2 separate regions of the Homo sapiens genome follow, and region 2 is reported to be linked to region 1. Evidence: microRNA targets listed by miRTarBase, many of them from high-throughput screens and not tested one by one. Region 1 holds a microRNA gene; the other region holds the end of a gene's coding sequence.
The links. The annotated mature microRNA hsa-miR-4717-3p reads ACACAUGGGUGGCUGUGGCCU and lies in region 1 at 1,156-1,176, shown strand. An mRNA with a match to its seed (bases 2 to 7 or 8) in the 3' UTR can be bound and repressed. Matches are read on the target gene's strand: a 7mer-m8 pairs with bases 2 to 8, a 7mer-A1 pairs with bases 2 to 7 and ends in A, and an 8mer does both.

Region 2: miRTarBase lists VAV3 as a target of hsa-miR-4717-3p. The part of its 3' UTR that is shown has no 7-base or 8-base seed match.

The regions. Positions count from the first base shown.
Region 1 is chr16:2,273,506-2,276,518 of GRCh38, forward strand. It overlaps MIR4717 (microRNA 4717), which reads left to right and starts at 1,115; the gene lies at 1,115-1,186. It overlaps ABCA3 (ATP binding cassette subfamily A member 3), which reads right to left. Exons shown (of 33, transcript NM_001089.3): 33 at 2,376-3,013.
Region 2 is chr1:107,570,927-107,573,926 of GRCh38, forward strand. It overlaps VAV3 (vav guanine nucleotide exchange factor 3), which reads right to left. Exons shown (of 27, transcript NM_006113.5): 27 at 235-2,446. The coding sequence ends at 2,405. Among named protein-coding and RNA genes, the nearest start is that of MIR7852, 320 kb to the right of the region's middle.

The sequences.
Region 1 (3,013 bases):
CTGTATCCGGCCTGCCCCTCTGCTCCGCTGTAAACCTGTGATGGCAGTGGAGGGGCTTGGCCTGGGCCCGCCCCACCGCGAGGTCTTCCCCTCTCCGAGTTCTGGGTGTGGTTTCAGTTGAGCCACGCCGTTGGACTGGGCCGGCCTGGAGGACAGAAGGCACAGGCTCTTCCACATACCTGGCTCGTGGCCCATGGGCCGTCTGCTCACGGGAGCCCTGCACCAGGCCATGCAGAGCAGTGAAGTCAAAACCTCGTTTCCCAGGTCTAAGGTGAACTGGGAGCAGGGCAGGAGTTGGCTCTGTCAGATGCCACAGTTGTTTGGGGACAGTGTCCGTAGAGAATGTGTGGCCCCCCTCCGTGGTCTAGGGTGGAGCGTGGATAGGCCGGTCACTCCTATCCCTGGGCCCAAGGCTCTTTTCCCCTGCCCTCCCGTGGGCTGGGAACTGCCACAGCTCAGACAAAAATCGGCCAGGGCAGGGTCCTGAGGCTTCAGTCCCAGGCTCCTTAGGGCACCCCTGGTGACCCAGCTCCAGCACTGAGTTTCCAGAGGCCTTGAGGATTTCCCTGGGATGCCAGATGGGCCCTTCCTGCTGCTCCTGGGGTCATCTAAGCTCCAGGCTTGGGTGCAGCCCTGGGCCCCTGCCACAGACGCCCTGAATGCACCTGCCCCTCCCGGTCCCCACGCAGCAGCCTCCTGAGCTGCGGATCATTTTCCTAAGAAGGCATTCTACTTGTGCCAGTCCTTACTTAAAGACCCCTGCTGGTGCTGGCAGCGTGCTACCGGGAAGGATGGTATCTCCTGTGCGTGTCCTGTGTACGCTGGCCTCACACGTGTGTGCCTCATGCGGGCTGTGCCCTCAGTCCTATACGCTCTCCCCAACCCTCTTTTAGGGTGTCACAGGAGAAAAATGACACATTCCTAAATCTCTAACACATGGGCTTGAAAACAAGTCTGAGGATGCCCTGCAGAAGGGCCATGGGCATGGACATGGAGCTGGGTGGCCTCGTGCACTGACCTTTCCCTCTTCCTAGCCCCAGGCCCGACCTAGAGGCCACAGCCCCTGCGGACAGGCTGTGGGGCCAGAAGGGCCCACTTCAGAACTTTTCTCGTGGGCAGTGTTTAGGCCACAGCCACCCATGTGTAGGGGTGGCTACACATGGGTGGCTGTGGCCTAAACACTGCCCAAACACGTTATATTTTTTATAACATGGAACTAGATGGCAGAAGTTTAAAGGGAATAAAAGAGCTACTGGAGACGATTTGCAGCTTTCATAAATTTCCAGAGACTGATAAAAACACAGACTTGAAATTGTCCCAAATGAGCCAAAGTGATGAAAACAAGTCTTTTCTAAAACTCTGAATTCTAAGGGAATGTAAAATGCAGAAGTTCAAATCGGGTTTAGAAAACCATAAGAAATAATAGTGCATTCGCCGGGCATGGTGGCTCACGCCTGTGATCCCAGCACTTTGGGAGGCCAAGGCAGGTGGATCACTTGAGGTCAGGGGTTTGGCAGCAGCCTGGCCAACATGAGACCTCGTCTATACTAAAAATAAAATTTAGCCATGCATGGTGGCGCATGCCCTTAGTCCCAGCCACTCCGGAGGCTGGGGTGGGAGGATTGCATGAGCCCAGGTGTTTGAGGCTGCAGTGAGCTGTGATACCACCACTGCACTCCACGCTGGGCAGCAGAGCAAGATCCTGTCTCCAAAAGACAAAACACAAAACAGTGCATAAAAAGGGGCCAGGCACGGTGGCTTATGGCTGTAATCCCAGTACTTTGGGAGTCTGAGGTGGGTGGATCACTTCAGGTCAGGAGTTCGAGACCAGGCTGACCAAGATGGTGAAACCCCGTCTCTACTAAAAACACAAAAATTAGCTGGGTGTGGTGGCGCGTGCCTGTTGTCCCAGCTACTCGGGAGGCAGAGGCAGGAGAATGGCTTGAACCCGGGAGGCAGAAGTTGCAGTGAGCCAAGATTGCGCCACTGCACTCCAGCCTGGGCAACAAAGCAAGACTCCATAAATAACTAAAAAGGGAGCTGATGAGGAGTTATTTCTGGGAAATGGCAAATGCCCACGGGTGACCCTGATGCCAGCAGCTTCTCTCCCACCAGACCTGTGCTTCCCACACAGCCCCACCTGCTCTTGTCTTTAGACTAAGAGCCTGTCACCGGGCGTTGATCTAGCCGGCTTTTTCCTTTGTGTTATGGGCCTGTTCCTTCACCTCAGTGTATTCTCTGCGTGTGCTCCCTTCTGGGAAAAGCAACGTCCCACGTTTGTGTGATTGAAATGTGAAAGGAGAGCCTCATGTCTAGATTGTGGGCGAGTGATTGAGCCCTGTGACCGCTCGCGCGTGTGACCCACAGACTGTGACTGTGTCCCCTCAGCATTTATTTTCTGGATGGTCACAACGTATTCAATGTGTCCTTGAGACAGCCACCCAGCCCTTAGGGTGGTCCCTGCGTGTCCTGGGGCGGGCGACTTCCTGAGGGTGCAGTGCTGGAAACAGAGACTGCTTCGAGCCTGGCCACCTTCCCTCCTGTGCCGGCTGCTTCTAGGAGATGCTGTGGGACGGTGCCCGGCTTCGCGGTGACTACCATGCCCTAAGGAGCAGAGCCTCCAGGATGCCCCCGGGCTGCGCTGGACGCTAAGACCCCAGCACCTAATCACAGTCAGCAGCTTCCCTCCACTGACAGTGATCTGCATGGTCCATTCCTGGCGGCCTGGGGGCCTCGCTACAGTTCAACCTGGCTGGCTTCCCGCTTCCTCCCCAGGGGAGATTAGTGTCGTGTGTAAACTTGGACAAGTCACTGGGTCCTCTCTCCAGGGAGTGCCTGGAGAAATTCAACCCCCAGCTCAGCTGCAGCCCTTCCTGGGTCAGCTCTCCACCCAGAGACCCCGGAGCTTGCCCGCAGACTGCCCGGCCTGCCCCAGCTCTGGGAAAGTGAACTCCAGAGTATGCAGACATGGAGATGCGCATGCTGATCCTGGGCATGAGGGCTGGGCTGCACT
Region 2 (3,000 bases), not on the chromosome of region 1:
CCCGGGCCCAGCCCTGGGCTTCAAGACTCACCGCAGCGGCCCTCCTACTAGACGCATAGCGTCCACGGGGCTGGCGGGCGGGGGGGTGGTGACCTCCACACATACACTGCTTCTGTTCACTCTGGACTGCTGGCGATGGCCTGGTACAGGCCCAACAATCCAGTGCCATCCATTTTCAGGGGAACCCTGACTAATACAGGGATCATTCAATAAAAAGACTCCAACTCTTAGAAATCAATTTAGTCACTATTTATTATATTGACATATTTACAAAATAATACAAAGTGAAATACCACTCTAATTCACCGTATTACACGAGGGCTGCATACAGGCAAGACAAAGTATATGGAAAACATTTACTTCTGTCTTTGGTATTAGAACTCTACACAAATCTGCAGCATTTAAATTTTCCAAAACAAAGTATTAAACGTGGACAAAGATGTAATTGGTAATGTCACAAAAAGGGGCTCCAATATCCTCTGCTAGGAAACCCCCAGGCCCATGAAATGCAACAGGAAGACTAAACACCATTTATAAGGAGAGGGTCTATTGACTAAAATAAACAATACATGCTACAATACCATCCACAGGAGTGTTTCTGCTTGTGTGAGGCTGCTCCCTCCATAACAAAGTTCGGCTGACGGCAACAGACAAAACATTCCCGAGACAGAGTCGCAGATAAGACTTTACAGGAAAGAATCCATTCCAAGAGTACACTTTGAGGTGTAACTTTATTGTACAGAACATTTTATAAAATACATTTTTGTGATCATTTACACATATACAAAGACTTAAATGGTTTTAGCAAATAATAATTTTTCTAAAACACAATCACAGTTTACATAATTCTGAGGTAAAGGTCTTGAATCTATCCTAGATGAAAAGTCCTAGCCCATGAGGGTCTCTAACAGGGGGATGTGTCCACTGAACCTTGAGTTCTGGCACCCAGACGGATTGATGAGAGGGCAGGCTACACCTGCTTCATTTCAGAGATGATTCAAAATTTCAGAACTTAATGCTCCTGGTTCAGTTCTACTAAGTTAATGCTTCTTTTTTTTCCCAACATGTAACTCTCTCAGTCTTGTCAGAACACAACTTCTGCTATGGAGGAAATATTTCCATCAGGAAAGGGCCAAGTTAGTGTCTTAACTTGACTGCCTTGAATGGGGACTCTGGACCCCAGGAAGAATGTATTTAGGCTCCTCACAAAAAAGAGTGATGGCTGGGCAAAACAAATGTACTGCAAGACCCATCTTCCCTCCAGTTAATACACTCCCAGGATGGGCTGCAGAGGGGGAGACTCTGAGAGAAGCTGGAGGCCCACAAAAGTCCACTGACCCTCTTTCTGTCCCAGAAATGAATAAAGGACCCAGTTGTGCTTTCCTTCCAAAATCCTCAACAAAGTTGTTTGTGCTCCAAGAAAATGTGGGAATAAAAAAATCATGTCCCAGGTCATCTTTGTGTGTGTGCGGGGGAGGTGGATGGGAGGAAAAGGCATGTATTAATAGATACTGCTGCTATAAAATGACATAAATTATAGCCCTTGATCTGTTTCTGTAAACAATGCCAGCTTCTTCAGGTTATTGGCAACTACCCTTAATATACCTAGCCCAGATCCTTTCATAAAGTCAAGTGCTATATTTCCAAAATAATCCTATGAAATCATGAAGGTTGTGAAGGTTTAATATGAAGACACCCTCTCTTTTGTGTGCTTTTTTCACCTTTTATAAAGAAGTTTGCAAATATAATCAGGACACCAAATAAGTAATTAAAACCCTTCAGGGATAGCTCACTTATGATGCAAACCTGAGCACTGGCCTCATATTTTATAATATCATGAGTAACATCTGAGGGTAAAAGTGTTTGCCGGGCAATGAGTCACCTTGTTGGACAATTTAAGACAAGTAAGGCTGGATCTTTCCAGTAAGCTGCTCAAATGGCAGAACTCCAATTTTTCGTCATGCTGGGAAAAGGAAAATTACACTTCTGCTTCTTTGTACCATCAAATAATCTGGTGAATGGCATGTGAGAATAAAGCAAAAGTGTATTAAGATTTACTGATGACTGGCATTCATGGTATCTGACCAGAAGAAGTAAAGGGAAGCACGAACCAATGTGTTTGCAGGGCTCTTCTGGGAAGAACAGCTCTTGGTTTTGCCCTGGTCCCTGACAATGACAGACTGGCAGGCTGTTTCTTGCACAGCTCTAGGCAAGCCATTAATCTGTCAGTACCAGCATCTTTAGAAATCTCAGCATTAAGACTTAGGAGGGGCTAAGGAGGGAGGATGTTGAACAGCCAGAAATGCAGCTTTTTAAACACTTCAGTTAATTCACGATGCTGTGCAGGCTTCTATTTATCCCTTCTCTGAAATTTTTGGTGCAGGGTGCAACACGGGATTTGAATTTATTCATCCTCTTCCACATATGTGGATGGAAACCAGCCCACCTAAAAAAGAAAAGCAACCAACACAGCAACATGACTTTGTATCTGACACTTCAAAGGATTCTACAAACAGAGTATTTTGTTTTCATAACACCCCAATTAAACTGGGGTTTTATGTCCATTGTAGGTGAGAAGATTGGTTTAACTGCTCTTAGAAGCCTAATAGAGTAAATGATCGAAATGGAGGAATAAAATAAACAGTGTTCTAATCCACTAGCACACAAATAAATATGTAAATTAAGTATAATACAGGGGGGCTCTGCTGCATAATGATTCCTATTTCTGCTGTAGAACAGGATGAAAAGACAGAGGTACTATGTCCCATTCTTTCCAATTTACATCAGCAGTTCTTATAGATATTTTGCAATACACATAAAGTTTAGCTCTATGGCTCAGGGTCTAAAAAGAACTGAAATGCTCCTCGACTCTTTTCCAAGCAGCAAGCTGTCCCACTTGCCCAGGTGAATTTTATTTATGTCACTATCATATTCATTTCAAATATTTTCAGCGAGTCCCTGGTATCAGCAAAACACAGCACCAGTTTCCAGAGGGCAGAG